Regions from separate parts of the Homo sapiens genome. Here regions 1, 2, 4 and 5 are each linked to region 3. Evidence: fine-mapped expression QTL. A gene starts in region 3. Each other region holds a variant in brackets. All regions are shown on one strand. Distances are from middle to middle. Region 1 has its middle 25 kb from the start of OR13A1. Region 2 has its middle 28 kb from the start of AGAP4. Region 3 holds the start of NCOA4 (nuclear receptor coactivator 4). Region 4 has its middle 44 kb from the start of MSMB. Region 5 has its middle 35 kb from the start of MSMB.

Region 1 (5,106 bases), 740 kb after region 3:
CACATCCTCCTGCTTCCCTCTGTGCTCAGGTAGCTGCCTGAGCCGGTCCAGACCTGAGGGTCCTGAGTTCCTTGGGCAGCAACTGTGCTCACTCTTAACCTATTGTCTTTCAGTTCCAAACCCATCTCTGCAACTCTGAGCCTGGGATGCTGCAAACCTTATTTTTCCTTTGCAGCTGGATTTCTGTTAGTCTCTGCCCAGAGTGGGCCCTAGAGGGATCCTGGAAGGCTGGGAGAGAGCAGGGACCTGCTCTGTCCCATTTGCTTCCAGCTTCTGTCAGCATCATCCTGAGGATGATTCCTTAGCTTTGCAGCAGTGATTTGGTCCAAGGACAGCAGCTGCTCTCAGCTTTTACACTTGCAGGAGCAGCCTCATTTGGCCCCTCAGAGATGCTGGCACATAGTCACCAGTGTTGCCTACTCTGGGGTTTCAATCCCTGTCGAGGGTGGCTCTCCTCCGAGCTGCTGAGGAAGCAGCATGCACTGAGTAGCATGCATCCTCAGGCTGAAGCCCTGTGGGATCTCTTTATGCCACAGGAAGACCAAGGCCACCCAGGAAAGCCACTCTCCTCAGGGTCTCTGGTCCAGCTCAGTGCAGTCCCTTCACTGGCTTTCTCACTGACCATGGCCTCAAACTCTCTTTGCTCCTCCAGTCCCAGGATATAAAGCTGCTTTCTGTGGTTGCTGTTTTTGCAGCACGGCAGTTTCTCTTGTGCTCTGCAGTCCTCCCAAATGTCTCTGGCCAGTTCCCTATATTAGGTCCTCTCTGTTAAATTGGTAGTGTGGTTTCTGTTTTCTCACCCAGATGCCAACTGATGCAGGCCTCCCTTCTGGGGCCTGTAGGCTCCATGCTCCTGTGCTGCTCCCTGTGGTCTCTGGTGTGAGTTCTTCAGGCTCTGACAGATCCAGGTCCTGCTCCAGCTATTTCTGCTTTGAACACAACAATGGGCTGAATCTGTGCCCATAAAGGGCTGAGCTCATTCAGTCCCAGGAGTGAGGAGAGCTCATCCTGAGTTTGTTAACACTTCTCATGCCCTTGGATGGTATCTCCTATAAAAGTTAAAAGTTCTTTTAGACTTCCTCTTCCAGATTTCCTGGAACCTCTTCAAAGAAGTCAACATGCTTCTCATCATGGGGCTGGGCTAGAGAGGAATCTCTTTGAATGCTCTAGATTGCTTTCTCTCCTGACCTGATTCTTGGTTTCAGAATGGTGTTTGTAACCCTATTCTCTCATCCCAAGATGAATGTCCTTGCTTTCCTGAGGCACCTACTGTCAGAGGCATGTGAACCAGAGCAACTCCATCTTAAATAGGAGCTGGGAAAAATGAGGCTGAAACCTACTGGGCTGCATTCCCAGATGGTTAAGGCATTCTAAGTCACAGGTTGAGAAAGGAGGTCAGCATAAAATATAGGTCATAAAGACCTTGCTGATAAAACAGGTAGTAGTAAAGGAGCCAGCTGAAACCCATGGAAACCAAAATGGTGATGAGAATGGCCTCTGGTCTTCCTCACTGCTATACTCCCAGCAGCACCATGACAGTTTACAAATGTGATGGAAACATCAGGAAGTTACCCTATATGGTCTAAAAATGGGAGGCATGAATAATCTACCCATTGTTTAGCATATAAACAAGAAATAACCATAAAAATGGACAACCAGCAGCCCTCAGGGCTGCTCTGTCTATGGAGTAGCCTTTCTCTTATTCCTTTACTTTCCTAATAAACTTGCTTTCACTTTACTCTGTGGACTTGCCCTGAATTCTTTCTTGTGCAAGATCCAAGAACCCTTTCTTGGGGTCTGGATTGGAACCCCTTTCCTGTAACACTACCACTGGGGATGCAGGGGGTGCAGATTTTATCTCTCCTTTAGACATAAATGTGATTATTTTGGTGTCTGGAAGCCTAACCATTGCTTTACATTCTCCTTCATACTCCCATCCAGACATCCTCCCTATGACATTCACTCATTTCCAACCCTTCCTGTATATCATGGAGTTGCTATGGTGGGTGTGCAGAGCAGCGCCCTTGGCTGGACCTTGGGGTCCAGTCACCATGACAGTTGCCTTGGTCAGTCATGTGGTCAAAGGATGAGAACTATAGTTTTCATATTGCTCAAGGTTAACTTTACCTTTTAGAGAACTCAAGATTACAATACAGTATGCATAAACCAAGTGAGAGCAAGAGGCTACTAATTGGATCAATATATGTCATAAAGCCTAGATTTACTCCTGAAAATATTCTTTTCCTGCTGGTTGGGTTGTTTGGTGAAGATCAATCACATAATAATCTCAGTTCTAACTATGTCATTGTAGACTTTCATTATTTCCTTCCTCTTATAATAAATCCTTATTCTGCCCTCATCAAGCCCTGTAATACTTTCTGAGGATACAGCAGTGAGCAAGATTGGTAAACATTGCCTGAGCTCTTAGTTTTGAAGACAATTTAGTAAACAACAACAATAAAATCCCCATAACAAGGGAAATGCCCCTGCTTGTGGGGGTTAAAGTAGGCCTCCTGTGACAAGTGTCATTTAGGCTGTGCTCCTAAGGATAAGTGGAAGACAGACAGGATAACTTAGTGTTGAAGTGGGGAGGGAGAGAGTATTATAGGCTCCTGGCAAGAGTGTCTGGCAAGAGTGAGTGTGGCTCATACACCCAGTTGAAAGAAATCAAGAGCGGTCAATCTGGACTAAAATGGTGGAAAAACGACCATCACCAACAGTTTTATCCAATGGGTATTGGGAGGGATATATTCTACCTATTTTCTTCACTTACTCAATTGAAAAACCTCATATCCCTAAAAACAATTAAAAATGCTTATACCTACAATTTCTCAGCAACAAAAGGGGCCTCATTAATTAATCATATTAATTTCTCTTGATGTCAATAGAGCCCAGTCTCTTACTGATGATCTCTTGGGGCTTTTACATGGTGGAGACTCTTGGACCTCTCAAATGTAGATGAACAAATAATACTCTCAGAACTGATGACATCTCTCTCCCTTCGTGTGTGTGTGTGTGTGTGTGTGTGTGTGT[A/GTA]AATCAGTCTACTATGCAAATTAAGTCTGTAATTTCTTTTTCCCATGAGGATACATTATATCCTAACACAACCCAAGAAGTGAAATAAAATCAGGCCAATTTGTAATTGCATCTTTTTCTTACATTTGAACATGCGGCCTCTCATGAGAAAAGCATACCATTTGAGTTGATTTTTACCGATATGTAAATAGATTTTGGTTTATCTAAGTGACTTAAGTTCCCACTCAACTCAATTTCCCACTGATGCAATTCAAACATATGCACCACAAACTGGCCAGACATAGAGACACACAAAGCAGAAATCCATGTGAAGACAGAGGAAGAGATTGGAGCGATGCCTTCATAAGCCATGAAACAACAAGGATTGCCAGAAACCACCACTAGCCAGAAGAGGCAAGAGAGGACAGTTCCCTAGAGCCTTCAGAGAGAGCATGGCCCTGCTCACGCCTGGATTTTACACTTCTAATATCCAGAACTATGGCAGAATAAATTTCTATTGTTTTAAGTCACCAGTGTTATAATTTTTAATGACAGTTCTAGGAAACTAATGTAGGTGGCTTCTAGTGGAAGAGAAGTCTCAAATTATGACTTATCTGGTGTCACATCCACAAGCAATCAGCCACTCAGGGGTCTCTTTTACCTAAGCATTGCTACCTAGTAACACAAGGCTTTCCATAGTTATCAGATTTCCAGAGGAATCAAGCTAGAAAGTAAATAGAAGGTCAGTACCTCTTGCAGAAAGGCAGGGTTTTGTTAAACCTTTACCCACAAACAGAGGAAAAAATTGCTAAGTTAAATCCAAATGCTTGTATCCTCTTTTGCATTTAGTGGAGTTAAAGCCCCACAATTATCATGGTTTTCAGTAATTTTTTTTTGTGATAATGCTGTGTGCTTACCCCCTGTACTTGGAGGTGAGTAAAGCTTATCCTCAAGCTGTACTCAGCAGTTTGCAAAGACAAACATATCTTTTTCTCATTCACAAGTTGGTGGATTGGCTGGGCTCCACTAGGTTCCACTGGGATTGGATTGGTGAGGCTCTCATTGAAGGTTGGCTTCACGTATGTTCCATGTGTCTTTTCATGCTGGGATCTGTGGCTACCTGTGGCATGTTCTTTTCATGGCTGATGGATGTAGTGGGAGAGACAAACCAAACCAAGCAAACCTATTTAAACCTGTACTTGTATCATGGCTGTGTAATTGTTACAGGGAAGGAGCAAAGAATTGGGAGCAATAGTCTAATCTGCCACAATAACCCTTGTAAACCAAAAAGTATCTGAGATAGGACTCAATCAATTTAGAGGTTTATTTGGCCAAGATTAAAGACCTTGACCCATGCACAGCCTCAGGAAGTCCTAAAAACATGTGCCTAAAGTAGTTGGGTTACAGCTTGGTTTTATACATTTTAGGGAGAGAGAAGTTACAGGCAAAGACATAAATCAATATACATAAGGTATATGTTGGTTTGGCCCAGAAAGGTGAGACATCTTGAAGCAAAGAGGGTGGAGATTCATGGTCATAAGTGGATTCAAAGATTCTCTGACAGGCAGTTGGTTGAAAGAGTTAAGCTCTGCTTTAAGAATTGAATTCAGCATAAAAAAATGCTTGAGTTTGTTAGAAGCATTTGAACCAGAGCAACTCCATCTTGAGTAGCAGCTGGGTAAAATAAGGCTAAAACCTATAGGCTGCATTCCCAGATAATTAGGCATTCTAAGACACAGGATAAGATAGGAGGCTAGCACAAAGATACAGCTCATAATGAGCTTGCTAATAAAACTTGCAGTAAAGAAGCTGGCTAAATCCCACCAAAACCAAGATGGCGATGATAGTGACCTCTGGTTGTCCTCACTGCTACACTCCCACTAGTGCCATGACAGTTTACATCCCTACATTGTAAACTGTCATGGCACTAGTGGGAGTGTAGCAGTGAGCTGGGCACATGCCTTTAATCCCAGCTACTCGGGACGCTAAGGCAGGAGTGTTCCTGGACCAAACTGAGGGTTGGGCTGCTATTTCCTGCTGCCAATAATGAGATGCAGATGAACTCGGGAGGAAGAGAGTTTTATTTTTTGCAAC
Region 2 (5,098 bases), 210 kb after region 3:
TTTCTGAGAAACTGGATTTGTCAGCCTCTTTCTTTGGTATCTCAGGTTCCTTGGCCTTTGCAGATAGGTTTATATAGACCTGCTCAGCACAGGACAGGCAGTTTCTCAAAAAATTAAAAATAGAATTACCAAATGATCCGGCAATATCACTTCTGGGTATATAGCCAAAATAATTGAAAGCAAGGTCTCATAGAAATATGTGTACACTGATATTTATAGCAGTGGTATTCACACTCGTCAAAAGATGGATGCAGCCGAATTGTCCATAGGCAGATGAATTGATAAAATGTGGTATATACATACAATAAAATATTCTTCAGCCTTAAAAAGGAAGGAAATTCTAACACATGCTACAACATGGATGAACATTGAGGACATTATGCTAAGTGAAATAAGCCAGTTAGAAAAAGACAAATACGGTGTTCCTTCACTTATGTGAAGCGTCCAGACTGAGTAAGCAAACTAATAGAAACAGAAGGTAGAACGGGGGTTGCCAGGGACATGGGGAAGGGAGAAAATGGGAAGTTGCTTAGTGGATATAGAGTTTTGGTTTTGTCAGATGAGAAAGTTCCGGAGATTGGTTGCATGGCAATGTGAATATACATTACCCAACCCAAGGGCTCTCCTTGACCCCTGTTCCAACTGCCACTTAGAAGTGGTTAAGGTAGTAAATTTTATGTGTATTTTACCACTATTCAAAATAGAATTATTATTTTTTTATTATAATTTTTTGAGATCCCTCACTCTGCTGCCCAGGCTGGAGTGCAATGGCACCGTCTCGGCTCACTGCAACCTCTGCCTTCTGGGTTCAAGCGATTCTCCTGCCTCAGCCTCCCAAGTAGCTGGAACTTACAGGCACATGCCACCATGCCAAACTAATTTTTCTATGTTTAGTAGAGACGGGGTTTCACCATGTTCGCCAGGCTGGTCTTGAACTCCTGACTTCAGGTGATCCGCCTGCCTTGGCCTCCCAAAGTGCTGGGATTACAGGTGTGAGCCACCATGCCCGGCTGTCAAAATAGGTGTTTTTTGTTTGTTTGTTTGTTTTTGAGATGGAGTTTTGCTTTTGTTGGCCAAGCTGGAGTGCAATGGCGGGATCTCGGCTCACGGCAACCTCCACCTCCCGTGTTCAAGCAATTCTACTGCCTCAGCCTCCCGAGTAGCTGGGATTACAGGCATGCACCACCATGCCCAGCTAATTTTGTATTTTATTTTAGTATAGATGGGGTTTCTCCATGTTGGTCAGGCTGGTCTCCAACTCCTGACCTCAGGTGATCCACCCACCTTGGCCTCCCAAAGTGCTGGGATTACAGGTGTGAGCCATTGTGCCTGGCCTTTTTTTTTTTTTTTTTTTTTTTGTGGGTGTGTGTGTGTGTGTGTGTGTGTGTGTGTGATGGACTTTTGCTCTTGTTATCCAGGCTGGAGTGCAATGGCACGATCTCAGCTCACTGCAGCCTCTCCTCCCGGGTTCAAGCGATTCTCTTTCCTCAGCCTCCTGAGTAGCTGGGATTACAGGCATGCACCACCATGCCTGGCTAATTTTGTATTTTTAGTAGGTATGGGGTTTCTCCATGTTGATCAGGGTGGTTTTGAACTCCTGACCTCAGGTGAGCCATCTGCCTCGGCTTCCCAAAGTGCTAGGATTACATGCGTGAGCCACTGCGCCTGGCCTGAAAAAAAATTTTAAAGTTTGAGAAAATACAAAACTTTCATAGTCTCCAAGTATTTCTCCTAAGATCTTTCCCCCTATGAGGGGGAAAGATAGTAACTTTACAATGGAGAAATCCAGCAGAAACCTGAACCAAATGAACAAGTTCAACATCATCAGTAAGAAGAACTATCAATGCCATAACTCTGAAGGAATGCACTGGGAAGGATTCCACATCATTTTTGTGCTGTAATTGCCAAAAGTGTGTAACTTCAGTCCAATCATGGAAATACATCAGACACACCCAAATCGAGGAACATTTGACAAA[T/C]AGTGATCAGTACTGGTTCAAGATGTCAGGGTTATGAAAGATAAGGAAAGATTGAGGAACTGTTATTGCAGTCCTACAAAACGGCGAGAGACTGAGAAATAACTAAATGCAGCGTGATCCTGGGTGGAATTTGGGAACAGAAAAAGGACATTAGTGGAAAAAGTGGCAAAACTCCAATAAGGTCTTTAGTTTAGCTAATATGTTCATTTTTAAATAGTTAAATAATTTAAATACATTTAAACGTCATTTAAATGTATTTAAATTAACAAAATTGGTTATTTTGTGAAATAATTTTAATATAGTTAAATATGAGAATGTGGATTTCCTGGTTCTGATCACCGTACTGTGGCTATCTAAGATGTGAATGTTCAGGGAGGCTGGGGGAGGAATAAATGGAAATTATACTATTGAATTGGAAAAGAGAAACCTACCCCATCAGTCACGAAACCCTCACATTCATGGCAGTGTGTCGGAGGTTCCAGTATGAATGGCATTTCCCAGATGTCAGCGCAAGGTCCCTGTGGAGGGAGTGGGACTCCCTGGGAATCTAGTGGAGAGCATTCGGGGCTCCCTTCCTCAGGAGCCTGCCCTTCCTGCACAGAAGCGTCGGCCTCACCTGTACCACTGCCCCTCTGCCTCTCAGAACCAACTCGGCTTCAGGAAGGTTCTACTGCCAGCTTCCTTTCCCGGATACAGCCTCCAGGGACTCAGCCCTGCCTTCCCAAGTGTTCCTGCCTCTCTTGGGAAGGGACGCTGTCAGATCCCGCACCCCTGGACTTCCCCGCACACCACCTGTTCCTTTTTTCTTCACTTCTCCAGCTCTGCGTTCTCACTCTGAGGGTCCTCTCTTGCTGGGAGTGTGTGTTGCTGGCAACAGTGAAGATTCCCCCTGGGTGGCCCCCCATGCCCTGTTCTTCTGCACTTCCCTGGCTTCCTGTGTTGGTTCTGCTGGTGTCACCTGCTTTTGGGTTTACGTGGCTTCCCAGCTTCCTAATTTCTCTGAAGTTGAGTTTGATGTGTATGTTGATGATGGGCTTTTTCTTCCTCCTTCTCCTCCTCCTCCTCCTCAGTCTTGTTGTTGCTCTATATAGTTTCCAGAAGGAGAAAAGGGACACTGTAAAATTGAGCTGCTGCAGGCTGGACACAGTGGCTCATGCCTGTAATCCCAGCCCTTTAGGAGGCCCAGGCGGGCGGATTACCTGAGGTCAGGAGTTCGAGACCAGTCTGGCCAACATGTTGAAACCTGATCTCTACCCAAAATAAAAAAATTAGCAATGTGTGGTGGCATGTCCCTGTAATCCCAGCTACTCGGGAAGCTGAGGCAGGAGGATCTCTTCAACCCAGGAGGCAGAGGTTGCAGTGAGCCAAGATCACGCTACTGCACTTCAGCCTGGGTAAAAAGAGTGAAACTCCATCTCAAAATAATAATAATTAAGCTGCTGCTATGTTTCTATCAGACCCAGAAATCCCGCAGAGTGAGCTGGAATTCTCTGTTTCTCTGTTTCCCCTCCATACCCACTGGCTCCTCTCTGCCCACTCCCTCTTGGACTGCATCACCAAGGTTCCTCACTGTCTGGCCCTAGTGGAATTCAGACAGTGGGGGATGTCATAGGAGGTGGGAGAGAGAGGAGAGGTGGTTATTCACTCAGATTCTTCCTTGCTGGTTTGCCAGTGGCCACATCTTTCTAGTGATGGCTGCAGCTCCTGATGATCCTCCCCTACAGCCACAGCTCTCTTCGGGGTCTGTGGACACCTTTCCTGTCCCTCTAGACCCAGGGAGATAACAGCTCCCACTCTTGCTGGTCCAGGGCATTTCTCATCTCTCATTGGTTCCCTTAACTCTGTCCACACTTCTGTGAACAGCCCCTTTTCCTCAAGTACCCATTCGAATATGTCCTCTGGCTTCCACCAGGAGCCTGACTGATACCCACAGGTGGGTGAATGCTGGCGTGCTTCTGGGCCGAAGCATGTTTTGTATGCAGAGGTCAGCAGCTGTGTGTGGGGAGGCCCAGCCAGGCCCCACTCATGGGTCATCATGTGAAAAACAGCCTTGCCTGAGTTTGTGTCCTCTTTCTACATGGCAGCAGATGTGTATTTTGTTTTTGACTCTGCAGCTGGTGATAACCACCTGCTTTAACCTTTCACTAGCCTCTGAGTTTTCTATGATTCCTGTTGGGAGAAAAGCTGAGTGTTGGTAGAGAAGCTGAGGCAGGGCTTGCATGTCTGCTAGACTTGCTGGCTTCTTGATTCCAGCATTCCCATTATCTCAAGTAGCCATATATTTCTCATTCACTTGCTACACTGTTTCCTTTCAACCTCCACATCCTCACCACCTGTTTCTTTGTTAGATCACCAATAAATAGCATGGGCTCCCAGAGCTCAGTGCCTTTGCAGCCTCCACACTGGCAATGGCCCCCTGGTCCCACTTTCTCTCTTGAACTTTTTCTCATTCTTTTGACTCCGCGGGACTTTGTTGCCCCCACGACCTGGTGTTGGCTCTGATCATCCCAACAGATTCCCATTCTAAAGATGAGGGAACCAAGAGGTGGAAGGGAGAGTTAGAATAAGAACCATTTCTTCTGACTCCAAAATCTTTCAGTTCTAGCACACTACCACCCACACTTTAAAAAACTCTGAAGTAGGCAGAGAATTCCCTCTTGTTGGAGGAATTGCTTTGAGAGACATGGTTTTACTGGATGAGGCTTTGGAAATTAACCTGAGGCAGGCGCCAGCACATCCTGAGAGGGATGTAATCTGGCACAGAGGCCTAGCCTGGTCTCCAGGTCTCAGCTGGCAAGACAGTCTGATCATTGACATTCCAGGCTGGGCAGGGCCAAGGGGCTTCAGGGGCCCATGCCCTCATGGGGCTCACTGAGCTTGTCTCCCATCAGCCAGTGTCCCGGCATCTCCAAATGAAGGCAGCTGTGGGGGAAGTTCCTTCTAATGAGCCAGTCTGTCCTGGCTGGGGGTGGCATCCCGGAGCCCCACCTTGGATGTCCAGGGACGTATAGGTCCATTGTGAGGATAAATGGGTCAGCACTGAGCCCTCACCCTGGACTCAGGGGACATGAGCCTGCTCTGAGCCCTCTCCCTGGACTGGGAGGGCATTGGGCTTGCTCTGA
Region 3 (5,106 bases):
AACAAACCCAAACCCAAACAAAACAAAACAAAACAAAATACATATGAATAAAAGTTCTATTTTTCCTAAACTCTATAATAGGTCATTGTGCATCCCTTACTCAGGGGACCACTGCCACTCTTACTGTTTCTGATGTCTGCACTCTGCTGCCCGTGTCCTGCTGTCTGGTGAACGATGAAAAAAATGTGTGTCTTCAAGCTGGAATTAGATCCCTTCTTTTCTTTACGGTGTTCCTGTTTATCCCTCCTTCCTCTTCATCAGGAAGTGTCTTCTATGATGTGTCCCCCACATTCCTCTGTGTTTGCTTGAGGTCAAAGCAGCTTAGAACAAGAAACAGCTTAGAACAAGCCTGTAAAACAGCTTAGAACAAGCCTGAAGAAAGTGCCCCCAAGACCACATGCAGCCCGAGGGGAATTAAAGGCCAGGGGCTCTGCCTTGCAGATGGAGAGTGGCCTGGGTGCAAGGCCCCAGCATCAGCTACCTCTTGCTACACACAGACCACCGAAAACTTAGTGGCTTAAGACAACGACAACATTGATTCTCTTTTAACTGTTTCTGTGTTAAAGAACATCTGTTCACTCAACAGGTCTGTACTGAGCACCTGGGCCAGGCAGTGCTCTAGACCTGGGGATACAGCAGTGAACCAGAGAGATTTCAGGAGAGAACCCTGTTCTCCTGGGGCTTGGACTCAGCTGTGTGTACGTGACAGATCAGAAATGAGCAAACAGTCATCTGTTGAACAATCAGTGGGCAACTGATAAAGAGCTTTATTTTCCCCTGTCCCCTATCTGTTTAAACATGCTATGTGGGCCAGTTGAGCAATCTAGACAGGTCCCTTAGCTTTCTTGTTCACCTTCAGATAATTTAAAAAAGTGGTCTGAGTTACATTTTGAGTTACACAAAGTCTCATTCCAGGGGCTGCATCTGAATTGAGAGGGAATGGGGGACAGGAGAGTTAAGGGCTCCTTCTGCCTGAGGTCATGTTCTAGGCTGACTTCCTCATGGGACTTTTGTGGGCTTCTCTCTCCACAGCTCCCCTTCCACTCACAGCCTATGACTGTTATCTTAGCTTCTGCATCGTAATCTATGTCTCCTATTGTTTTCTAATGAGGTTGCCTTGCCCCTTGTAGCAGAGTCACTCTTGGATGAGATCCATAAAACCCTGCTATGATCACCTCCTTTGCTGCGGAATGTGGGGAAGCAGTTGGCAACTGAGTATGGAGGACCTCTGTCAAAACTGAGACAGAAAGAAGTGCTATTTAACATCTAGTCACAAGTAAATAATGTGGGTTATAATCTGGGCTGTAGGCTGGACGTGGTGGCTCATGCTTGTAATCCTAGATCAGGTGGGAGGATCGCTTGTGCCCAGGACTTTGAGACCAGTCTGGGTAACACAGCAAGACCCTGTCTCTACAAAAAAATTTAAAAACCGGGCATCATGGCGCATGTCTGTAATCCCAGCTACTCAGCAGGTTGAGGCAGGAGAATCGCTTGAACACAGGAGGCAGAGGTTACAGCAAGCCGAGATTGCGCCACTGCGCCTGAGCGACAGAGTCAGACCCTGTCTCAAAGAAAAAAGAAAAGAAAAAAAGAATCTGGGTTCTGCCATTTATTTATTTACTCAATTTTTTTTTTTTTTTTTTTTGAGACGGAGTCTTGCTCTGTCGCCCGGGCTGGAGTGCAGTGGAGCGATCTCGGCTCACTGCAACCTCTGCCTCCCAGGTTCAGGCAGTTCTGCCTCAGCCTCCCGAATAGCTGAGGCTATACGCGCGAGCCACCACGCCTGGCTAATTTTTTTGTATTTTTAGTAGAGAAGGAGTTTCACCGTGTTAGCCAGGATGCTCTCCATCTTCCGACCTCGTGATTCGCCCGCCTCGGCCCCCAACGTGCTGGGATTACAGGCGTGAGCCACTGCTCCCGGCCTATTAACTCAATCCTTAGAAAAACAAATGTGGCAAAGGTGGAATCATACAACATATGGCCTTTTGTGTCTTACGATATTCATTTTTGCATCTGAATGTTCAAACTAAATAATATCTACCTTGTGAGGCCATCTGAATCACTTAGGATGGTCCTTGGCACCAAATTTGCCTTCAAAAAAGCATTTGCTTCATTTAATTTCGATTTATTCACGAAGGACTAAAGGACACTGCAAGGGCGGGGAGGGAGTGTGCGCCTGCGCTCTGCGCCTCCTAGAGGGCAGTCAAGGGCTTCTGGCTGACCCGAGCGGAGATCTCGCGAGACTGTCAGACGTATGGCGAGAGGTGTGGGAGGAAGATTGTGTTGTCGCGAGAACTCTGCCTTTGGGCCGTAGGTTAGTGTGGGGCCGTGTCTCAGTCCACCCAAGGTCTCCTCGGATCGCCTGGAGAGGCACTCGGACCTGGTAAGAACGCTGTGGGCCGGGTGGAGGCTCGATGACCGCTGGCCCGCTGGGCCCGGGCTTGTCCGCCCCTTCCCGACCCGACCGACACCGGGACCGGTCTGCCTTCTCCTTCCCTTCCCTCCCCTCCACACGCCAGGCCCGGGCACCTCTTCCTGCCTGCCCGCCGGGCCCGGGCCTGTCTTCTCCCCTTCCGGCCACACGCCGGGCCCGGGCCTACGTTCTCGCCTTCCCGCCACACGCCGGGCCCGGGCTTGTCTTTTCCTCCCCGACCCTCCTCGTGCCCGGCCGTGGGCCTGTCCTTTCCTCCCCGACCCTCCTCACACCCGGCTCGGACACCTCCTGCTCCCCGCCGGCCTTCCCCTCTCTTTAGGTGTGACAGCTCCAAGTTTCCTGTTTCTCTCGCCTCTTGCTTGGATGTGGGGCGAGGCGAGGTCTGTTTTGCCGGACGGGCACAGAACATAATCCATTTCTAGCTTGTCAGGTGGAAATGCAAAGAAGATATTGGGTTTTTTTGGCCCTCTGTGTGCCAAACACATACTGTCACATTTAATTCTCCCAATAATCCCGAAAAGTAGCTTGATTATCTCTGTTTTACAGCTGAGAAGAGTAAGGCTTGCTCATTCATTGGTTCATTCCACCAGCAATCATTTATTTGGTGCCTGTATGTTCAGGATGTTGAGGATAGCAATGAAAAAAATGGACACCTAATTCTCATGGAACTAAATTCTTGTTGTGGGGAAAACAATAATCATAATCTTACGTGGCACGGGATTTAACATGGAATGATGCCATCAAGAATGGCAGAAGTAGAATGACAGAAGTCAGAGTGCTGAATTTATCTGACCCCAAAGGCAGAGCTTTTTTACTTTTAACTGTGCCTTTTTGTGTCACTTTCTAATCAGGGTCGGGTTCACCACAGTAATTGCCTTTTGGATGGACTTAGCTTTCCACCACGCACTTGGTAATTTGGAACTAAGTTTATAGAGACTCTTGAGTTACTTATTGGAATGAGGATGGCACAGGAAGTCATAGTTGGCCCATTTTTATACCGAGATCCTAGTGTGACATTTCCAAACTTTAAAGTACTTGAGACCGTTTGAGAAAGACTTACCCTAAGGATGCAGTGGCTTAGGCAATTTACTTGGTTTTCTCATTTGAAGATTTGCTAGCTTGCAGATTTGTTCAGATAAGTAAATGAGATTATGTATGTAAAGTCCAGCACAATAACGTTCCTTTCATTTTCTCCTTTCCTGCCTTCCAGGGAGCCTTTGTCCTTGGGTCTCTAAGGAAAATCCTACTCTTTGAAAGTTTTGTGGTAGTTTTTATCTAAATAAATCTCTACAATTACATTATTACCTTTGTGCAAACAGGCATTTCGGAAATGGAAAAACATGTTGAGCTATGGAAGGGGAGGAAGATGTCCTTCTCAAAGGGAGAGAAGATATTTTAGAACTACATAGTACCCCTCACCCCCCCCTTTTTTTTTTTTTTATTAAATCAGTATAGCTGTGCCAGAATCTCAGGATCCGGTGTAGGGGTTTCATAAAACTCCATAGGATATCCTGACACATATCCCTCCCCCGGTTGAGAGTCCCTAAGTTAGTGTTTTATAATACTTTCCCTCACATAGTGTTAGCATTCAGAGCCAGTCATTGCTGCTGCTGATGGACTTTGAACTCAGTCTCTTATTTCAAAGAATTAGTATTTTCTGCTTGGTTGGTGAATCTATGACACGAGTTCTCCTCTAGGTGGCAAGCTCACCATTGTGTTCTCAGGGACTATCACAGTAGTGTCAGTTTAGGTACTCAATAAATAGTTGTTGGATGAATACATAATACCTTAATACTTAATGATTCCTTCAACATACCAGGTGTGGTTAGGGACTTTGGACTCAGATCTGGGATTAAATCTTGGCTCTTCTACTTGGGAGTTTGTGACTGTAGGTAATATATTTAACCTTGTCAAGTCTGCTTTTTTTTTTTTTTTAATTAATGGTGATGATAATAGCCACTTTAATGAGGGCTAATTGAGATAGTGAGTTTTTTAAAAAAAGGCTCGGCACATAGTAGACTAGATGTAAATACTTACTGAATTCATTTACTCAGTAATTAATTGTTGAACACCTACTATACAACAGTGAACAAAAAGACAAAGTCCCCGCCATGTGGAACTTACCTTCTAGTATGTTTTCTGAAGGGAGATCAGAAAATAAATGGTTGCTACGTGCCAGACTGTGGTTAGTACTATGGAGAGTAATAAAGCATATTAAGGGGGATTGGAGGCAAGACTTTTAAAAATAAAAGATGGTGAGGAATGGCCTCAATGAGAAGATGACCTCTGAGCAGACACCTGAAGGAAGTGAAGGCCTGGGCTCGAGGATACCTGGAGGAAAGCGCAAGGGCCCTGAGGCAGAAGCATCCTTGTTAAGCTAAAGGAGCAGCAGGAGGAGAAGAGTAAGGGTAGAGGGGAAGAGTAGGTAGCAGTCATGAGGTTTCTGCAAGAGTCCTGGAGAGAGATGATGGTAATGAAATTGATGAACTTTATGTCTTTCTTTGTTATATCCTGTTCTTTGACTAAAAGTAATAAAAATAGGTAATACTTCTATAGCTCTTAATGTGCATCAGGCACTATTTTAAGTGCTTTACATATATTAGTCATCAGATCTTTCCAAGAAAGTATACCTAGCCTCAGAAAATGAAGATTTGTCACTCTTTAGGATATAC
Region 4 (5,106 bases), 60 kb before region 3:
GTGTATGGGATGTTTGGTGTGTCTTTGGTATTTTTGGTGTATGTGTGTTTGCTATTTATGTATGTGTGTGGTGTGTGGGTGTGTGTGCTTCGGGTGTGTGGTGTGTGGTGTGATGTGTGTGGTATAGGGTGGGTTGAGTGTGTTTGTGGTCCAGTGTGCATGGGTGGGTGGGTGTGGATGTGTGGCCCACATGAGTGTGAATGTGAGTGTCTATTGGTGTGGGGGGAGTATGCAGAGGTGGCAGTGTGAGTACTTGTGTACAATTAGTGTGTTGTTACCTCACAACAATAAGTTTAACCCTAAAGCAAGAAAAGACATGTGTGAGAAGCTCACAGGAAAACACTAGCAAATGGCATGGAGCAGCAGCTAACCCAGACCACAGGGCAGGAGCAGCCAGGGCTCCTCCCAGGAAGGCCAGGCAGGTGCAGAAGGTGAAATAGCTGTGAAATTTACCACATCAACAAAACGGGAAACAGGAACCAAGCGGTTATCTCAGAGGATGAAGAACAAGAAGTGGGGGCGTCAACATGCCACAGCACCCTGGGAGCAGAAGGAAACCTCCATAGCCCGACAAAGGTGTCCACACAAACACCCTCGGCTCACCTCAGTCCCACAAGATCAATCCCAGCATCTGTCCCTACTGTCTGGAATTAAGGGTGACCTCATGCCATCTGGGTACCCAGCATGGGTGGTGACAGCCTTGTGTGGTCCTCTGTGATGACCCCTGTCTGTCCTGATCTCCACCTGTGCGCACTGGGACTCCGCATGGCCGGCATTTATGCAAATGCGGCTGCTGGAGAGGAAGAGAGCCCTGGGTGTCCTCCCTCCATGGGGACAGCACGAGACTGGGTGCTGCTGGCCCAGAGCAGCAGCTGGGTTCTGGCCTCCCAGTTCCTCACTGCAGGGTGCCCTGGCAGTAGGCTGTGAGGACAGACACACCGTCCATGTCAGCTCTGCTCTCCATGGGCACACGACCAGGAGCAAATTGTCCAATGTCAGCGAGCTCCAGAGGTGCCTCCCATGAACAGAAAGGATGCTGTCAGGCCTGTCGTGAGTCCCAGGGCACTGAGCTGTGCAGGGACTGGCACAGGGCTGGGAGCTGGTAGGTCCCAGAAACAGGAGCTGTGCTGACACTTCCATGATTGGTCCTGGGCTCTGACCCCACTCACCTCTCCCCGATGCAGAGCTGAGGATGGGGGTGGAGTAGAGAGAGCTCCCCTCCCACTTGGGGTCTCTTTCTGCTGCTCCTGGTTTAAAGCTGCTCAGTCGTGCAGCCAGTGTGCTAGCTGTGCTCCTCTGACGATGTCCCCTGGACATGCACAGGCTGTGGCGTCTGAGCAGTCCTGTCAACCCCAGGTGAGGATGTGAGTCGTCACTCTTCCCTGGTGGCAGCTGAGTTGAGGTGACAGGTGCCCTCTGCCCACCAGCTCAGCCCTCTGCCTCTGCTCACGTGGCCCGGCAGTCACAGCCCTGACCTGTCAGCTGTTGGCTGACTTGGGCAAAGCTGCCCCACATGGAGGGTGACAGTCACAGCAGGGAAAGGCCAAGGCAGGAACCTGGAACCTAAATGCAACAGAATAAGCCCTCTCAGCAGGCTGCCACCAAGAAACCAGGAGGGCTCCAGGGAGCCCAGGAAGGAGGCCAGGGAGGGAGGCACGCAGCCCAGACTCCCCCATTCAGTCCTAGGCCTCATATGCAGCCTGGCAGAGGCCTCTGCTGGGCTCACTGCTCCAGGCCAGTCCTGAGCCCATCCCCCACACATGGCTGGAGGGTTTTGGCAGGAGCCTCCCTTCTAAGCCTGGCAGGTGTCTGAGGCTCTTAGCAGAACCCCCAGGCCCTCCAGGAGCCACTTCCTGTTCTGGGCGCCCTGTGCAGAGGTGGGACCAGGTGGGGCGTAGGCACCCTGCAAGCCCTGCCTCACCTTGAAGGGCCGAGCCCACCTGTCCTTCACAGCCCTGTTCATAGGGCACCTCATCCTGGAAGCCTTCCCTGATGACCAGCCCCTCTGACTCCCTGCAGCCCAAGGGCTTGGTCTGTCCCTCTCATCAGTCACTTGTCACCCAGGATGTATCATGACTTCTGATTGTCTATGTCTAAGCATAATTTTCTTCTTTAGTTATTTGGTTTTCTTCCATCCTTTATTGTTGAAATTTTCAAACCTATAGGTGAGTGGAAAGGATTGTGCAATGAACACAAACACACCTATATCCACCACTGGGATTTTACAGTGAATGTTTGCCCATGCTCCTTTATCTCTCTCTCTCTCTCTCTTTTCATCCATCCACCTTGCAAAAAAGGGAAAAAAAAATGTTTGCAATACGTAGTCCTAACACAGCCTAGAATGTAATTTGCAACCACCCCGATTATGAAGCTTTGGGGCAGCCCTCAGTCCTGCTCAGGGTGGCCGAGTTGGGCTGACCAAGGGGTGCAGGCCACAGGCCCAGTTGCTCCCTCCCGGGCACACTGAGCCCAGTGTCCGGCTGGCCAGGGCCCTTTGGACACCTGAGCGAGGAAGATGTTGAGAGTGTTGCCTGATAGCATCAGACTTGGAAGCAGCTGCTGTTGGCCTTAGTGGTGGGAGAGCACCCGATGCTTGCCCTGAGTGGGGCCAGGTCTGGTTGCTCAGCACAGGATACCAAGCTGGCCTTTCCTGCTACCGCTTTTTTTTTTTGAAACAGAGTCTCATTCTGTC[A/G]CCCTGTCTAAAGTCCAGTGGCATGATCTCGGCTCACTGCATCCTCTGCCTCCCAGGTTCAAGCAATTCTCCCACCTCAGCCTCCCAGGTAGCTGAAATTATAGGTGCCTGCCACCATGCCCACCCAGCTAATTTTTTTGTATTTTCAGTAGAGACGAGGTTTCACTAAGTTGACAAAGCTGGTCTCGAACTCCTAACCTCTGGTGATCTGTCCACTTCAGCCTCCTAAAATGCTGGGATTACAAGCATGAGCCACCAAGCCTGGCCATTCTTTTGTACTCTTATGGAATTATATGCTTGCTTTATAAAAATGAACTTATTCTACATATATGTTATTACATTATTAAGACATGTTCCCAAATGACATATTACATTTTCATCATTCTTTTTTAAAATATTTTTTCGTGAGACAGTGTCTCGCTATGTTGCCCGGGCTGGAGTGCAGTGGCTTAATCACACATATATATAATAGAGGCAGGACTTGAATCCAGATCGTCTAGCTCTGGAGTGCTGGGTCTTAACCACTAAACTACAGTGAGTTCTTAAGCTGTTTAACTGAGTTATTGCATGTAACAAAGTGGTAGTAGCTGTTCTTACCTGGAAAGGTTTTTTTTTTTTTTTTTTTGAGATGGAGTCTCGCTTTGTTGCCCAGGCTGGAGTGCAGTGGCGCGATCTCTGCTCACCGCAAGCTCCGCCTCCCGGGTTCATGCCATTCTCCTCCCTCAGCCTCCCGAGTAGCTGGGACTACAGGCGCCCACCACCACGCCCGGCTAATTTTTGTATTTTTTAGTAGAGATGGGGTTTCATCGTGTTAGCCAGGATGGTCTTGATCTCCTGACCTCGTGATTGGCCTTCCTTGGCCTCCCAAAGTGCTGGGATTACAGGTGTGAGCCACCACGCCCGGCCTCTGGAAAGGTTTTTAATGATTTTTACAAATATTAAAAATTACATTAATATGTCAGATTAAAAAAATATATATAGGCCAGCTGCAGTGGCTCACGCCTGTAATCACAGCACTTTGGGAGGCGGAGGCAGGCGGATCACGAGGTCAAGAGATTGAGACCATCCTGGCCAACATGATGAAAACCTGTCTCTACTAAAAATATAAAAATTAGCTGGGCACAGTGGTGCGTGCCTGTAGTCCCAGCTACTCAGGAGGCTGAGGCAGGAGAATCATTTGAACCCGGGAGGCGTGGAGGTTGCAGTGAGCCAACATTGCACCACTGCACTCCAGCCTGGGCGACAGAGCAAGACTCTGTCTCAAAAAAAAAAAAAAAAACCAACAACAAAAACTGTTTGGGTTTTTTTGAGACAGTATCTTGCTCTTTCAGGGTTCAAGCGATTCTCTTGCCTCAACCTTCTGAGTAGCTGGGATTACAGGCATCTGCCACCACATTTGGCTAATTGTTATATTTTTAGTAGAGACGGGGTTTCACCATGTTGACCACGCTGGTCTCAAACTCGACCTCAAGTGATCCACCTGCCTCAGCCTCCCAAAGTGCTGGGAATACAGGCATGAGCCACAGTGCCCAGCCTATATATTAGATTTTTAAGCGGAAAGGTGTTTGTTAAGAATCTTAGATCACTTGAGCCCAGGAAATTGAGGTTGCATGCCACTGCACGCCAGCCTGGGTGACACAGAGACACTCTGTCTCAAAAAATAAAAGAAAAATCCAAACAGTTGTGTTCTAAGTAGGATATGTAGTAATCATGACCTTTAGCATTGTACTGCAGCAGTCTATCATCTAATAAGTGATTGTGTGATCTAAATTCACAACATGGGGTGATAATGCTACAAAGTTGGTTTGTTTAAAATTAAAGTTTAATTAACTAAATAAATCATTATTTTAATAAAACCAACATGCCATATGTAAAAATAAAATCCACACACAGACATCATCTCATTTATAGGGAGAACATACCTCTCTGTGCAATAGTTTTCTCATCTGAAAAAAAGAGGTATAATAGAGCCTATTTCAGAGTTATGTGCAATTAAGGAAATAATATATACAGAGCATTTAGAAATGCTTGGCACATGGAAAGCACTCAAGAAGTGTACGTGTCCTCAGTATAATAAAGACCATGTAGGAAAAATCCACAGAGAATTTTATTCTCAATGGAGAAAAATGGGAAGCTTCTCCCCTAAGATCAGGAACAAGACAAGGGTGCCCACTTTCACCATTTCTATTCAATATAGTATTAGAAGTTTTAACCAGACTAATTAGGCAAGAAAAATAAATAAAAGGCATTCAGACTATAAAGGAAGAAGTAAATTATCTCTGTTTGCAGGTGACATGATCTTACATGTAGAAAACCCTAAATTATACAAAATACCTGTCAGAGCTAATAATTGAATTAAGCAGTTATAGGATGCAAAATCAACACACAAAAATCAGTTGAGTTTCTATACACTC
Region 5 (5,106 bases), 51 kb before region 3:
CCTTCGAAATTTTAGATTTTATTTATTTATTTATTTTGAGACGGAGTTTCGCTCTTGTCACCCAGGCTGGAGTGCAATGGCGTGATCTCGGCTCACTGTATCCTCTGCCTCCCAGTTTCAAGCGATTCTTGTGCCTCAGTCTCCCAAATAGCTGGGATTATAGGTGCCCACCACCATGCCCATCTAATTTTTGTATTTTTTTTTTTAGTGTAGACAGGGTCTCACCATCTTGGCCAAGCTGGTCTCGAACTCCTGATCTCAGGTGATCCACCAGCCTTGGCATCCCAAAGTGCTGGATTATAGGAGTAAGCCACTGCACCTGGCCAGATTTTATTTTTTAATTAGGCATTTAAAAATTTAAAAACCACTTCCATAGTATTGGAAGTTCCGGCCAAGGCAATCAGGCAAGAGAAAGAAATAAAGGGTATTCAAATAGGAAGAGAGGAAGTCAAATTGTCTCTGTTTGCAGATGACATGATCCTATATTTAGAAAACCCCATCGTCTCAGCCCAAAAACTCCTTAAGCTGATAAGCAACTTCAGCAAAGTCTCAGGATACAAAATCAATGTGCAAAAATCATAAGCATTCCTATATACCAACAATAAACAAGCAGACAGCCAAATCATGAATGAACTCCCATTCACAATTGCTACAAAGAGAATGAAATGTCTAGAAATATAGCTAACAAGGGACGTGAAGGACCTCTTCAAGGAGAACTACAAACCAATGCTCAAGGAAATAAAAGAGGACACAAACAAATGGAAAAACCTTCCATCCTCATGGATAGGAAGAATCAGTATTGTGAAAATGGCCATACTGCCCAAAGTAATTAATAGATTCAATGCTATTCCCATCAAACTACCATCGACATTCTTCACAGAATTAGAAAAAACTACTTTAAAATTCATATGGAACCAAAAAAGAGCCCACATTGCCAAGACAATCCTATGCAAAAAGAACAAAGCTGGAGGCATCACACTATCTGACTTCAAACTATATTACAAGCCTACACTAACCAAAACAGCATGGTACTGGTACCAAAACGGACATATAGACCGATGGAACAGAATAGAGACCTTGGAAATAACACCATACATCTACAACCATCTGATCTTCAACAAACCTGACAAAAATGAGCAATGGGAAAGAATTCCCTACTTAATAAATGGTGCTGGGAAAACTGGCTAGCCATATGCAGAAAACTGAAACTGGACCCCTTCCTTATACCTTATACAAAAATTAACTCAAGATGGATTAAAGACTTAAATGTAAAACCCAAAAACATAAAAACCCTAGAAGAAAACCTAGGCAATACCATTCAAGACAGGCATAGGCAAAGATTTTATGATAAAATTGCCAAAGGCAATTGCAACAAAAGCCAAAATTGACAAATGGGATCTAATTAAACTGAAGAGTTTCTGCACAGCAAAAGAAATTATTATCAGAGAGAACAGGCAACCTACAGAATGGGAGAAAATTTTTGCAATCTACCCATCTGACAGAAGTCTAATATCCAGAACTTACAAGGAACTTAAACAAATTTACAAGAAAAATAAACCTATCAAAAAGTGGGCAAAGGATATGAACAGACACTTCTCCAGAGAAGACATTTTTGCAGCCAATAAGCACATGAAGAAAAGCTCAACATTCCTGATCATTAGGGAAATGCAAATCAAAACCACAGTGAGATACCATCTCATGCCAGTCAGAATGGCAATTATTAAAAAAGAAACAACAGATACTGGCAAGGCTGTGGAGAAATAGGAATGCTTTTACATTGTTGGTGGGAATGTAAATTAGTTCAACCATTGTGAAAGACAGTGTGGCGATTCCTCAAGGATCTGGAACCAGAAATACCTTTCACCCAGCAATCCCATTACTGGGTATATACCCAAAGGAATATAAATCATTCTATTATAAAGGTTCATGCACATGCATGTTTATTGCAGCACTATTCACAATAGCAAAGACATGGAACCAACCCAAATGCCATCAATGATAGACTGGATAAAGAAAATGTGGTACATATACACCATGGAATATTATGCAGCCACAAAAATAAATGAGATCATGTCCTTTGCAGGGACATGGATATAGCTGGAAGCCATCATCCCCAGCAAACTAACACAGGAACAGAAAACCAAACACTGCATATTCTCATTCATAAGTGAGAGCTGAACAATGAGAACACATGGACACAAGGAGAGGAACGACACACACAGGGGCCTGTCGAAGCAGGGGCGAGGAGAGGGAGAGCATCAGGGAAAATGGCTAACGCATGCGAGGCTTAAAACTTAGGTGACAGGTTGATAGATGCACCAAGCCACCATGGCACACGTATACCTCTGTAATGAACCTGCACGTTCTGCACATGTATCTCAGAACTTAAAATAAAAAAATAAAAAACAAATTTGTTATGTTTAAATTTTAGAAATTTGGGAGGGAAAATGCATCTCTGCTAAGAATCTGGAATGCTTTCCTCTTTCTGATGAGAACTGCGTAACTTGGTGGTTTTATGTGGGTTTGTTTTTGTTGCTGTTGCTGTTTGTTTTGTTTTTACTGCTCTGGAAACTAGGAACCTCATGCCCACATTCTGATGCAGTTACAACAGCCCTTTTGCTCCCA[T/C]GAATTCTTGGGTTTTCTTTCCTTATCTTGATTTGCCACTTCTATTTGATTAGCTTCATTGTATAACCTTTGTTTAAAATATTTTTGGGAAATTAATATAGGAATATATAAAATTAATATATGAAATTAATCATATATGTCTCTTAGCTTTGCCTAATTTGTAGTTGAAGGTGCTGGCCTAACATCTGAAGGATGGCACTAAGAGGATCAGGGTTGGGTGTAGACAACTGCCCAGCCTACACCAGTTCCAGGATAGCCTGTCCTACAGCAGGAAATCAGCAGGGTTGTCTTTCTTTATAAAGGAAACATTCCATTATTAATGTGAACTTCAACATAAGCCAATGATTAAGGAAAGAACCAATATGTACCTGCTGCAATTTAGATCTAAAATATAAACATCCAATGTGTAGGAATAATTTCCTCCTCCTTTCATCGAATCCTGTTTGCCTAATGTATTTCATGGGTAACTTGCCACTCAGATATCCCAGGAAGCCCAAAGGCTAACACTGTGGGCTGACAAGTTGGGATGATACCAGCAGTGGTTACATTCTCACCATCCAGTCGTGTTATAGCTACAGGATCATGAAAGTTTGCTCATGGGAAATGCAAGTTCAAATTATTGTTTCTACTGAGCTGGAATTTATTTTAGAAGTGCCTAGGGTCAGTTCATTCCTTGAATTCCAAGCACTGTTTGTCAATTCCTGGTTCCAAAATTTCTTAAAGTCTGAGATCTGAAAAGGCAACATTTTTGTTCTCTTCTAAGAGGTATATGCCTGTTTGTGTTTTAAACAGGTTTGTCTGTAACTGAAAGTTAACTGACCCCAGTGGCAAAAAGGAGAAGCTGTTAGCTTGCACAAAAACTGTCAACCACAGCTGCAGATAAAACAGGGAGGGCTGAAGGGATATGGGACCGATGCCATTAGTATCTAATGCAATATTTAGTAAAAGATGTTGCCTAAGAGGATGATGCTATGGGGAGCTTGGAAGAACCTAGGTAGAAGACTGTGGAAGACATGGAGTTGCCCGACTCACCCCTTCCTCCATCTTCCCCACCAAGGAGGATGTGAAGCCTAGCTGCAGGGCTTGCAGTCAATGGGTGGCCTCTAGCTTTTGGCTCTTTGGGGGTCCTTGGTCTGTGGGGTGATCTTGGGTCACCCAAGGTTGCTGCCGTCTTGGGGCAGCCTCATCCAGTGACTGGGTGAAGCAGGATACACAGGCCCCAATATTCCAGTCTGAACAGGACACTCTTTTTTTTTGAGACAGAGTCTCGCTCTGCCCCCCAGGCTGGAGTGCAGTGGCGCGATCTTGGCTCACTGCAAGCTCCGCCTCCCGGGTTCACGCCATTCTCCCGCCTCAGCCTCCAGAGCAGCTGGGACTACAGGCGCCCGCCACCACACCTGGCTAATTTTTTGTATTTTTAGTAGAGATGGTGTTTCACCGTGTCAGCCGGGATGGTCTCGATCTCCTGACCTCGTGATCTGCCCGCCTTGGCCTCCCAAAGTGCTGAGATTACAGGCCTGAGCCACCGTGCCCGGCCTGAAGTGGACACTCTTGATGAACACCGTTGCTCCAGGGTGCCCTCCAGGTAGACTGAGGCTGTGCTGGGCCCACAACACAGTTCAGTTTTTTCCTCTGCCCCATCAGTTTTTCCTCCTTCCCTTCCTAGGTGTGGATCTCTAATAAGTATCATGCGCCTCAAACTCCATCTCACTGGTTGCTTTTGGAGAACTCATCCCTTGACAAGTCCACCAGCTAAGGCTCCCTGTCTTTATAGAGAGCACAAGGAGGGGCACCTTTTCCCCATAAAGACCTGCCTGCTGATGGGCTCTTGTTTTCTCTAGGACCCGGCACTTGGCCAAATCATATTCAAAGTTAGCAGGGAACTCCGGTCTTTTAATTATTTCAATCATAGATGATCTTCCTCTGTAGTCATGGGCCAGGCCCCTCAGGGTGTTATCTGCACAAACGTTGAAAAGTTATGCTTCCGGCGGGGTGCAGTGGCTCACGCCTGTAATCCTAGCACTTTGGGAAGCCGAGGCGGGCGGATCACAAGATCAGGAGATTGAGACCATCCTGGCTAACACGGTGAAACCCTGTCTGTACTAAAAATACAAAAAAAAAAAAAAAAAAAAATTAGCCAGGCATGGTGGCACGCGCCTGTAGTCCCAGCTACTTGGAAGGCTGAGGGATGAGAATCGCTTGAACCCGGGAGGTGGAGGTTGCAGTGAGCCGAGATCGCGCCACTGCACTCCAGCCTGGACGACAGAGTGAGACTCTGTCTCAAAAAAAAAAAAAAAAAAGTTATTCTTCCTAGAAATACTCCCAGAAGACTTTGTCTCCAGGAAATTCAGTGCTCTCCAGGAGAGAGCATCCCTGGCACCTCTGTTAGAACTGGACTGTTCTCTGGCTATTAGTGGAAACAGCTTCAACTCCAGAATGTTCCTGGTATTTGCTGGAGGATAAGGCATGGAACACAGATAC

Evidence for each region.
Region 1: its variant is fine-mapped to the expression of NCOA4 in whole blood (INTERVAL, PIP above 0.99).
Region 2: its variant is fine-mapped to the expression of NCOA4 in whole blood (INTERVAL, PIP above 0.99).
Region 4: its variant is fine-mapped to the expression of NCOA4 in whole blood (INTERVAL, PIP above 0.99).
Region 5: its variant is fine-mapped to the expression of NCOA4 in whole blood (TOPMed, PIP above 0.99).

The regions. Positions count from the first base shown.
Region 1 is chr10:45,288,106-45,293,211 of GRCh38, reverse strand. No RefSeq gene overlaps it. Among named protein-coding and RNA genes, the nearest start is that of OR13A1, 25 kb to the left of the region's middle. The variant A/GTA (reference allele first, on the strand shown) is at 3,034.
Region 2 is chr10:45,817,410-45,822,507 of GRCh38, reverse strand. No RefSeq gene overlaps it. Among named protein-coding and RNA genes, the nearest start is that of AGAP4, 28 kb to the left of the region's middle. The variant T/C (reference allele first, on the strand shown) is at 1,977.
Region 3 is chr10:46,027,803-46,032,908 of GRCh38, reverse strand. NCOA4 (nuclear receptor coactivator 4) reads left to right here and starts at 2,286. Exons shown (of 10, transcript NM_001145263.2): 1 at 2,286-2,383. It overlaps LOC105378287 (a long non-coding RNA gene), which reads right to left and starts at 2,134. Exons shown (of 3, transcript XR_945923.4): 1 at 2,042-2,134; 2 at 125-320. RefSeq lists an enhancer at 2,241-2,310 and a silencer at 2,671-2,760.
Region 4 is chr10:46,088,006-46,093,111 of GRCh38, reverse strand. No RefSeq gene overlaps it. Among named protein-coding and RNA genes, the nearest start is that of MSMB, 44 kb to the right of the region's middle. RefSeq lists a silencer at 1,279-1,573. The variant A/G (reference allele first, on the strand shown) is at 2,693.
Region 5 is chr10:46,078,518-46,083,623 of GRCh38, reverse strand. No RefSeq gene overlaps it. Among named protein-coding and RNA genes, the nearest start is that of MSMB, 35 kb to the right of the region's middle. The variant T/C (reference allele first, on the strand shown) is at 2,626.